2 separate regions of the Homo sapiens genome follow, and region 1 is linked to region 2. The links come from fine-mapping of genetic effects on gene expression. A gene starts in region 2. The other region holds a variant in brackets. All regions are shown on one strand. Distances are from middle to middle. Region 1 overlaps CACNA1A (calcium voltage-gated channel subunit alpha1 A). Region 2 holds the start of CACNA1A (calcium voltage-gated channel subunit alpha1 A).

Region 1 (5,309 bases), 300 kb before region 2:
CAGTGGCATGATCTCGGCTCACTGCAGGCTCTGCCTCCCGGGTTCACGCCATTCTCCTGCCTCAGCCTCCTGAGTAGCTGGGACTACAGGCGCCTGCCACTATGCCCGGCTGATTTTTTGTATTTTTAGCAGAGACGGGGTTTCACCGTGTTAGCCAGGATGGTCTTGATCTCCTGACCTCATGATCTGCCCGCCTCGGCCTCCCAAAGTGCTGGGATTACAGGCTTGAGCCACCGCGCCCGGTCACCTCAGGGCATTTCTATGACAATCATGCCCTTCCAACCTTCCAGGTGATGAGGCTCAAGCAATGGCCTGAGAGTATGTGAGACTGGGGACTAGGCCAAGCTCCGCCCCTCTTCCTCATCCCCTGATCTTCCCACCCTGTGTCTCCTGGGCAACTAACACTCTAGCCTGATGATGTGCACTGTGGAGGCCTTGGGTCTACCTCTTGGCACTCGGGCATAGACTTGGCCTTTGAGTTCAGGGCTCATGGGGGGCTTCGGTAGTGAACTTCATTCCTGGGAGGACAGATGGCTGCAGCCTCATTGACAGCAGAGGGAATTGCACAAACCCTGGCTTACTCCAGTGGCTCCTGGACACACTCAACCCCAGCACCATGGGAGGGGGACCAGAGGCCAGCTCTGCAATGGATGGGCAGCTTGTTTAGAAGCCTGTGGTGGTTGCCAGATTGCCTGGTTAGAAAGTTAAACCCCTCCCTCCCTCCCTTCCATTCCATTTTTTTTTTTTTTTTTTTTTGAGACGTAGTCTCACTCTGTCGCCCAGGCTGCAGTGCAGTGACGCAATCTCAGCTCACTGCAACCTCTGCCTCCCAGGTTCAAGCGATTTTCCTGCCTCAGCCTGCCAAGTATCTGGGAATATAGGCATGCACCACCACACCTGGCTAATTTTTTTATTTTTAGTAGAGACAGGGTTTCACTATGTTGGCCAGGCTGGTCTCAAACTCCTGACTTGGTGATCTGCTCACCTTGGCCTCCCAAAGTGCTGGGATTACAGGCGTGAGCCTCTGTACCCAGCCTTAAAAAAAACAAACTTTTTTTTTTAGAGACAGCGTCTTGCTATGTTGCCCAGGCTGGTCTTGAACTACTGGCCTCAAGTGATTCTCCCAAAGTGTTGAGATTACAAGAGTCAGACACCGCACTCGACCTCAAAACTTTGACTTCTCGTTGGACTGATCTTTTCCTAGATGCCATTATTTTATTTATTTATTTTTACTTTTAATTTTTTTAGAGATGGGATCTTTCTACGTCACCCAGGCTGGAATGCAATGGTTATTCACAGGTGTGATCATAGCTGGTCTTGACCTCGTGGGCTCAAGTGATCCTCCTGCCTCAGCCTCCTGAACAGCTGGGACTACAGGTGTGTGCCACCACATTTGGCTTACCATTATTTTAGAAGGACTTACACCTGTCTTGCTATCTGGAGTCTGCAGATTTCTTACCCAAGGTAAGCTCAAGCAGGGCCTGTTGTCTGGAACAAGACCTGTTCAAAATGTTTGCCTTAATGCTACAGTAGTAATGGTGATAGTCAATAGTAGCTTGCTATGGGTCAGGTACTGTTGTGAGAACAGAAGCTCTCAAAGGGGTATTGGACTCTGGGGATGGCTGAAACACTTCGTGGGGGCGGGGGTTGGTGTCCACGAGACCAAATTATTATTATTAATTATCTAAGATGGAGTCTTGCTCTGTCACCCAGGTTGGAGTGCAGTGGCACGATCTTGGTTCACTGCAACCTCCGCCTCCTGGGTTCAAGCAATTCTCCTGCCTCAGCTTCCCGAGTAGCTGGGATTACAGGCACCCACCACCACGCGTGGCTAATTTTTGTATTTGTAGTAAAGACGGCGTTTCACTATGTTGGCCAGGCTGGTTGTGAACTCCTGACCTCATGTGATCCACCCACCTCGGCCTCCCAAAGTGCTGGGATTATAGGCGTGAGCCACCGCGCCCTGCCTTTTTTTTTTTTATTTTGAGACAAGAGTCTCATTCCGTCACTCAGGCTGGAGTGCAGTGGTGGGATCTTGGCTCACTGCTAACCTCCGCCTCTCAGGCTCAGGTGATTCTCATGCCTCAGCCTCCGGAGTAGCTGGGATTACAGTTTGTGCAACCACGCATGGCTAATTTTTTTTGTATTTTTAGTAGAGATGAGGTTTTGCCATGTTGGTCGGGCTGGTCTCGAACTCCTGACCTCAAGTGATCCATCTGCCTTAGCCTCCCAAAGTGCTGGGATTACAGGCGTGCATGATGCCCGGCCTCCTTGTCGCTTTCAAACAGTGCTTCTAGGAGCTAACAAAGAAGTGCCTCTTTGTATGATTCCCCAAGAGAGACCCACCCAGGCAGCACCTAGCCAAGGGACAAAGACCACTCCTATCCAAAAGCCCTTTGATTCAACTTTTTTTTATTTTTTTTTTCTTTTTGAATGTCATGCAATAATTCACAGTCCCAAGCCCACGGTTTTCAAACAAGGTAGGAAAAAAGGAAAAAAGAAGCAAAGGAATCGGTGGTGATGGTGGGTTTTTCTTCTTCTTTTGTTGTTTCAAGCAGGACCAAATGTCAGAAAAAAATGCCTCTTTTCTCAATCATTAATTTTTTTGTCCTTTTTAAAATTGTTTATT[GTTA/G]TTATTATTTTTTTAAATTGATTTCTGCAGGCAGTAATAGTAGGGTTTGGTATAACCGGCAAGCACTCTTGTGTGTGTCTGAGAACGTGTGTGGGTGTGAGTGTGTCTGGTGGTGGGTGTAGGGCACTGGGATTCTGGTTCCTTCTGGCTTCTTTGCCGCACTCGGCCACCAGCTGTCTTCATCAGGGAAAGGAAAGATTCAATTGAGATGATAAAACTCATCAATAGAAGCTATTTTTTTCTCCCCGTTTTTTCTTTTAAAAATGTTTTTTTTTTTTTTTTTTTTTTTTTTTTTCATGTTCCCCAAAGTTCTCCAAAAATGGCTGAGTTAATTCAAATCCCTTGGCTGTGTGGTTTGTCTGCTCCCTGCCTCCCACCCGAGAGCCCCTGTCGTGGGTGGGGGGATCGGGGCTGGTTGGGGGGCGCCGTGGCTGCCCAGGAGGGTCTCTTTTGGCCGAGGGTCTCTGCGGGACACCCTTGTGGCCCAGCCCTGGCCTCTCCAGAGTCTGGGGTCTCCCGGCTGGCCCTCTCCCGGGCCCTCTGTGCTGGGCCCCCGCGGCCTCTGCGCGGCTCCTCGGGTGGGGTGTGTGCGTGGGGTGCGTGGGGGGCCGGGCGGGCGCCACCTCGCCCGGGCTTAGCACCAATCATCGTCACTCTCGCTGTAGGGTTCGTGCAGGCCCTTCCTGGAGCCCGGCCCGCGGGGCCTGGCCAGTCCGTGCGCCGGGTAGTAGCCGTTGGGGAGTCGCCGGCCGTGCCGAGAAGGCGAGGCGCAGGCCGGGCCCGAGGCCCGGGGAGTCCTGGGCGAGCGCCCGGTGGCGCCCGAGGACGCGTGTCGTACGGGGGGTGGCGCGTCGTAGGCCCCGGCCATGGCCTCCTCGCCGCCCCCGCTGCCCGGGCCATCGGCCTCGTCGTAGTCGGAGCCCCGGTAGTAGCCATGGTGCCGGGGACCCGGGGGCCCCTCGGACACGTGCGGGCCAGATGCCGGCCACCGGGCCCCGCCGTGTCGACAGGCCCTGGGGGACTCGCTCCGGGCCGGGCCTGGGACCCGCCTCTCCATCCTGGGCGAGCGGCCGCTGCTGTGGCCCCCCGTGGGCGGCCGATCTCCGGCCAGAGGCTCGGCCGTGGGGCCTGGGTACCTCCGAGGGCCGCTGGTGGCCGCCCGGCCCGGCCTGGCCACCGCCTGCTGCTGCTGCTGCTGCTGCTGCTGCTGCTGCTGCTGCGGGGGCCCCGAGCCGCCGGCCTTACGGATCACAGGGGAATAGGACACGTGTGGCCGGGGGGTGGAGGGGGTCTGGGGGAGCTGGCGGCGGCCCCGCCGCGGAGTGCTGGTACCAGATGTTGAGGGGGCTGGGCTTCCACTTACGGAACTACTGCCCTACACGAAAATTGAAACAAAGGAAATCAAAAAAAAAGATACAACAAAATCAAAGGAGACACGGGATTGGGAGGAAGAGAGGGGAGCGAAGGGAGAGGGGCCGGGAGGAGAGGGAGGAGGGGGAGGGGGAGGAGGAGGAGGAGGAGGAGAGGGGGGACACAGGACATTGAATGGAAAAAAGCAACAGCCACAGGGAGGAGGGAGGGGAGGAGGGGGAGTGAGACAGGGAGGGGAGGAGTCGAAAACCAACACAACAAAGTGAAAAGAGAAATGAGAAATGGAGTTTTGTAAGTTTCGGGGTTAAAAATAGCAGAAGTTTCAAAAATTACTCACAGGCGTCCAGAGGACAGAAATCATAATTGAAACAAAAACAGAAGCCGGGTTAAAGGAAAGTGAAAGGTCGGGCGGCACGGCCCAGAACTCAAATATGATCCACAACCGAGGAGCAAGCAGCTGCGGGCGGCGGGGAGGGGGCGGCGGGTGGGCAAGGGGGCTGGGGGGACAGCATAGGCAGCTGGTGTGGTGGGGATCCGTGTCCGCTCCGGCCGCCGGGCACCCCGGTGGCTTGGGGGCAGGATGGGAGGTGGTCACAGCCGGGATCCGGGGACCTTTGCCTAGAGTGGCTGTTGGATGGGGTATCCCCTTCTCTCCTCCCCGCCTCCCGGCCGAGCCCAGCCTGGGGTCACTTGCAGCCGCACCCACCTGCCGGTGCGCCATGTGCTCTCGGCCCTCGCTGGGCGAGCGGGACCAGCGCTGGTCCCGAGCCCGTGCCCGGCCGTGGTCCGGCCGTTCCTGGGCATAGCGGTCCTTGTCGGGGGGCGGGGGATGGTGGTGGTGGTGGTGGTGGTGGTGGTGCTGTCGATGCTTCCGATCCTTGGGCCGGCCCCGCTCCTGGTCCCGCTCCTTCGACGGCAGGTCCCCGGATTGGGTGGTCATGCTCAGGTCTGTCCCCAAGCCTGGGCCGGGTGAGGGTCAGACAGACACACAGGTGGTCGTGAGGGAGAGGTGGGGCAGATGCACACACAGGAGGCCACCTGGAAGGTGTGGGGGCCCTAGAGATCCCCTGAACCGAGGCAGGTCAGTGGGTTGGGGGGAGGGGGTAGTACCCAGGTTCCTGCAGCTGCTGCCTGGCCCCCTCTGTCCCCTCTCCATGGAGGCCTCTCCCTTTCTTCTTCCTTAGTGTCTCCTCCGCCCTGCCTTCTCCTCCCCTCTCCTCTCCTCTGTTCTGCTTGTCCCTGAGCACCACAGGGCTGCCCACCTGTGTCCACATCGGTGTAGCGGCCCAGGGAGCGCTCAGAGGCG
Region 2 (5,362 bases):
ATATGTACTTGCCTGTACATATATTAGACTTTATTTAAGTACCTACACACTTTTTTTTTCACTCTCAGGATATGCTGAAACATTTTTTTTTAATGGCAGAAATATTTAGATTAAAAAGTAGAATGTTCTGCCCTGGTATCGTGACTCTGACATTCCACGTGTCTTTCTCTTTACACTGGCCTGAATTCTTTTATTCACTACCTCCCTCCCCAGGTCTCTGTCCATCCCCTCTCATCTCCAACCCTCCCACCCACCCCGCCACCGCCCTCCGCTCCATCCAGGACAGAGAAAGCTCAGTCCTGGATGACCCAGCTCGATGACAGATTGTGAGGTGGGGAGTTTTCCCTTCCAGAGTAGGGCTGTATAATGTGTTTGTTACCTCGGGTCAAAGAGAACAAAAACAGTCTGCAGAGAGCATAATGCACAAACTCATCATAAGAGCAAGAAAGCCCCGGGCGAGCTGGCCAGAGAATAGATGAAGTGGCAAGCAACACTCGCAATTCACCTGCCTCCCTCTCCCACGATTCCCCCTTCCGAGGGGCCACTGCAATCCCCCTCTCCCCCAACAGCCCTCCAATCTGCAGGATTCAGGCTGGACAGAGGTAAGCTAAGGACACAGCAGAAGGGCTCCCCACCTCCTTCCTTTCCTCTTAGAAGTCTCCAAATCCAGGCTCCAGAAGGCGATCTAAAGCCATTTTCAATGAGGAAACCTGTCAGCCGAGCAAAGCCCTCTCACTCCTGGAGCTAACTGGGTGTGCACCCATGAATACCCTGTCCTCCTGCAAGGCACTCCCACTCCTCACTCTGTTGATAGGCAGAGTAATCAAGCCACCCCTGAGCACTTCAATGGGCCTGGGATGGTGAGGAATTGCTAACCTTAAGAACCAGCCTCTTTAAGAGTCTGAAACTTAGGAAGCAAAGACCTGGCACCTGCTTTGGGCACCAACGGAGATGGCATCGTAGTTAGAGGTATGCTCCCCTCAAAAGCACCTCTGCTGAACTTCTTAATTTTCCCCACCCTCAAAGTAGACCACTCACACACTCCAAAACCTCAGTGCCCTCTGTTGCAATCCCAGCACCCAGGATCCAAGCGCCAGGCTCGATTTTGAACCCCCCTGAAGTGAGTCCCTCTACCACCCGCCATGCTCCTCAAACAGCAACCCCCGGAGACCACACAGGGCCCAGCCCCGTTTAGTCTATAACTGCAAAACCACATACAAAAGGGATAGGGGACTCATCGCTGAGCCCCAGGGACCCATCCAGCCCGTTCATTTTTACACAGAGGGCAGCTGGTTGGAACTGTGCGGAGAAGCGGCACATCTGGGCATGGCACAGTGGCCAGCCAGCCTGGGCAGCAGGGTGTGTCCCCCCTCCTGGAATCTGGGTCATGCTTAGATAACTGCTAGAAAGCCCGACTAATTACCCACCCTTGCCTGCCTACATCTCGATAGATGTTAAGCCCTCCTCAAGGTTTATTTCAAGCAGGCAGGGATTTAAAGAAACACAGAAGATCTGCATTTTGATAGCATCTCCACAGAAGAAAATGTGGGCTTCACCTTTTTCCTCTGGATCTTTGATTAAAAAAAAAAAAATTTAAAAGGCATTTACCTACCTAAGATGTCCACATGGGTGCTGATTCTCCTGGTGTTCCCTCTCGGCTACTCGGGGTAGGAAAAGCTGGACATGGTGCTCTAAAATGGACCCACCACCTCATTTGCTGTTGCCCTGTCTTTCTTACTGAAAGTGTCCAGATCAGGTCTTCCCAGGCCAGGGGCCCAGATAAAGCAAGTGGGATCTCTTTCTCGACACCCCCAAAGATGATGAGGTTCCCCAATCAGCGGTTAAAGGCAATGGGACCTGCACACATGAGGGAAACATAAGCGCCCCCCAGCCCATCACTATCCTCTCCAGATAGGAACAGCGGCCCACCCTGGGGTACTCACTTCGGCCAGTGCTGGCTTCTCAGTGTGAAGGCCACATGGACTCCCTCTTGCTCTTAGCCCTGGGAGCCCCCAAGCGCCCTGCCCTAAAAGTGCGGCGGCCCCCCACCTTGGGGAAAGCAGTAGTGGAGAGGCTGTCCAGCTTCCCCTGCGTGGACTCCAGTGAGCGACGGCCAAGAAAACCCAACCAAGGCCCCCATAGTTCCCCTGCCCTGGCCAGAAGCGCCCAGGCCCGAGCCCGCTCCAAGCTCACTCCGTAGAACTCCAAACCCTCCGGACTTGGCTCGAAAGCCCCCACCAAGGCTCCTGCACGACCCCAGGCCCCAGATCTCATTCTAGAGTCGGTCCTTGGGAAGGATCCACTCTCCGCTGCCCACCCCCCAGCCCCCCACAAACCCATTCCCAAGCCTCCAGGGTAGCTCAACCCAGCTCGGGGTGGAGAGATTCTTTCACACTCCTCCCGGTGCCCCCTCTCCCAGCCCCTGGAAGACCCCCCTCCTCCCCACCTCCCATCAACCCCCGGGTCTCTCTCCCAGCCTGGAAGAGGGGAGGCGGAGGGAGGAGGGGGAGGCGCAGCTGCTGCTGGGGTTCGGGCAAAAGGATATGGCCATTCGGTGATCTTTTTGGCGTATTTTCTCACCACGTTGTCTTCGCTGAAGAGGAAGAGAGACCGGTTAACCGTGAGGCAGTTCTGTCGGACGGGGATGGGGTTGTAGAGTGCCATGGTCCGCGCTCTCTGCGCCATTGACTGCTTGTACATCCTTTGCGCCCCGGGCTGCCCGCCCTGCCGGCTGCCCCCGGCTCCTCGCCCGCCTCCGCTGCCCACGACCACCCCGGCGGCTGCCCCGGAGCCTCCTCCCCCGTAGCGGGCCGGCATCTCGTCTCCGAAGCGGGCCATTCTGCAAAGAGCAAAGGGCTCCGGGTTACGCTGCGGCGAACGATGCGGAAGACGCCGCCGCCGCCGCCGCCGCCGCTGATGCTGAGGCTGCCGGGGCTGGGAGCGCGGCGGCTGGAGCTACGACTGCGGAGACGCTCCACGGCCCAGCCCATCGGGCGGCGGCGGCTCGGCGCCTCGGGTCGGGGGCTCAGAAGGCGGCTGCCCGGGCCGAGCCGGGGATAGCAGCTCGGGACATCTTCCTGGCTGACCCCGGAGAAGGAGGGGCGGGAGGAGGGTGCGGGGGCGGGGCGCGGGGGCCCGGGGAGGAGGGGGGAGGGGAGAGAGAAGCGAGGCAAAAAATAACCGAGGAAGGAATCCAGGCAATCCCCAGTCCACCCACTCCGGAAAAAAAAAAAAAGAGACAGTTAAAAAAAAAAAATCCACCCAACGCACACCCCCTTTAAGACGCGAACGGTTTGCAAAGGACGCCCCCCCCGGGACGCAGTGGAAGCTTCAAATTCCTCCGAGGTCCGGGTCAGGCTGGCATCTTGCAAAAGGAGTGCGCTCGGCCCATTAAAAAAAAATAAAAAATAAAAAATAAAAAAATATATATATATTTAAAAATAAAGAAAGACGAAACCCAGGTCTGGGTGGGGAGGGCAAAAAAAAAAAAAAAAAAAATTAAGTGCCCTTCTGTTTTGCTGGAGTTCCTAGACCTTAAAAATGCTGAAAGATCTGTAGCTCCAAAAATAAAATAAAATAAAAACAAAGAAGATGAAAGGGAAGGGAAAGAGGAGGGAAGGGGAGTAAGACGCTCCAGAGGGTTCCTAAGGAGTCTTCACACCGCAGGGTCCAGGTTTAAAAAAAAAAAAAAAAATTTTTTTTCTTCCTGAATCACCAACGGCTGCCTCTTCTGCTCCCGGAGGAAGTGTGAGTGTGTATGTGCGCACAGCGTTTCGCTCAATGGTGCCTCATCTTGGGGTTAAATTGCAGCAGTGAAATCCTGAAAATTCCCAACAGGGGGAAAAGAGAGAGAGAGAGAGGTATGCGCCCTCCGCTTAGCCACTCAATAGCTGCCCCTGGATGCGGCAATGCCTCTCCACCCTCCAAATCCCTCCACCTCCTCCTTCTCTAGGTTTTGCTAAAATAAGACTGGTGTGGAGGGTTGCGGGTAGAAGAAGGTAAAGAGGAAAAAAAAATGGGCGCAAAGGTCTGAACCACTGGCCAGCAAACGGAAAAGGGGAGCAATTGATGAGTTTAACAGTAGAAGGACCCACCCAGAGTGTCGACACATGAGGGCCCGCGACCAATCGTGGAGGCTCGTGGAGGCGCGGGGGTACCGGGCTCAGCGGAGTTTGTGGGGGAGAGAGGGGAGCGTCGCATGGTTGGGAGGCAGGGAGGGGGGAATTGGGGTGCTTCCTCCTCCCCTGGGAGGAAAGCCTGTTTTCCACCCCGTTCCATTTCGGTTGCAGACAGCCGGACGCTCCCCAGCATCTTGCAAGGAGAAGGCAGGATGGAGGCAGGAAAAAAACTTAAAAGACAGAAAAGAGAAGGGGATTTGTGTCTAGAGGTGCGATTCGTCAGTCTCTAAACAAATTTGCTCTGTTTAGCAAAAGACCATTTTTGAAAGTGGAGAGAGTGGTTTGGGGTTACTTCTGTGAACGTTTCAAATCACAAGGACTCCTGCAAGTTGGAATTAAAGGTTTATTCTACCTTGGAGACCCCAGAGGTGACAAGTCTGAACTCCCAGGAGGAAATAATTAACCAGGTCCTAGTTGGCTGGATAGGGGTTCTGGGTGGTATAGTTTGCTTGATACTCACGTCTCTCCAGAACCACTTTGATTACTTCCCATTCTGCTTTTTGTGTGGTGAAATTCAATAAGCACAAAGAAAAATGCATAAAACATAAAGGTACGGAGTTAAGAAATTGGTCTGAAATGAACACTCATGAAATCAAGTCTAGGGCTAGAAATGGAACATCACCACCTCTGCAGAACCCCCTTTGCCAACACGCTTACACAGCCCCTTATTCCAGCAATAATCGCTACCTGACTTTATGGTATTCATATCTTGCTTTTTTAAAAAAAGTTTGACTACCTTATTATGCGTTCCTAACCAATACAATTTTACTTTGCTTCTTTTGGGCTTTTATATAAATGGAATAATCATATAGTATATATTCTACAGTTTCTTGTTTCTTCGGTTCAACATTATGTCTTTAAGATTCATCTGGCAGGGCACGGTGTCTGCGCCTGTAATCCCAGCACTTTGGGAGGCAGAGCATGAGGATTGCTTGAGGCCAGGGGTTTGAGACAAGCCTGGGCAATATAGCAAGACCCTGTCTCTCCAAAAACCTTTTTTAAAATAAAAATTAACCAGGCATGGTGATGTGAACCTAGTCCCAGCTACTTAGGAGGCTGAGATGGGAAGATCCCTTGAGTCCAGGATGTTGCAGTGAGCCAAGATCAAACCACTGCCCTCCAGCCTGGGCAACAAAGTGAGACTCTGTCAAACAAAACAAAACAAAACAAAAACAAACAAACAA

The links. PIP is the estimated chance that this variant, and not a neighbour inherited with it, causes the effect.
Region 1: its variant is fine-mapped to the expression of CACNA1A in whole blood (TOPMed, PIP above 0.99).

Annotation. Positions count from the first base shown.
Region 1 is chr19:13,204,047-13,209,355 of GRCh38, forward strand. CACNA1A (calcium voltage-gated channel subunit alpha1 A) reads right to left here. Exons shown (of 47, transcript NM_001127222.2): 45 at 5,266-5,309; 46 at 4,710-4,963; 47 at 2,396-4,007. The coding sequence ends at 3,267. Among named protein-coding and RNA genes, the nearest start is that of IER2, 56 kb to the left of the region's middle. RefSeq lists enhancers at 4,194-4,463, 4,770-5,309 and silencers at 4,464-4,513, 4,594-4,783. The variant GTTA/G (reference allele first, on the strand shown) is at 2,630.
Region 2 is chr19:13,503,387-13,508,748 of GRCh38, forward strand. CACNA1A (calcium voltage-gated channel subunit alpha1 A) reads right to left here and starts at 3,093. Exons shown (of 47, transcript NM_001127222.2): 1 at 2,546-3,093. The coding sequence starts at 2,838. RefSeq lists an enhancer at 4,135-4,661.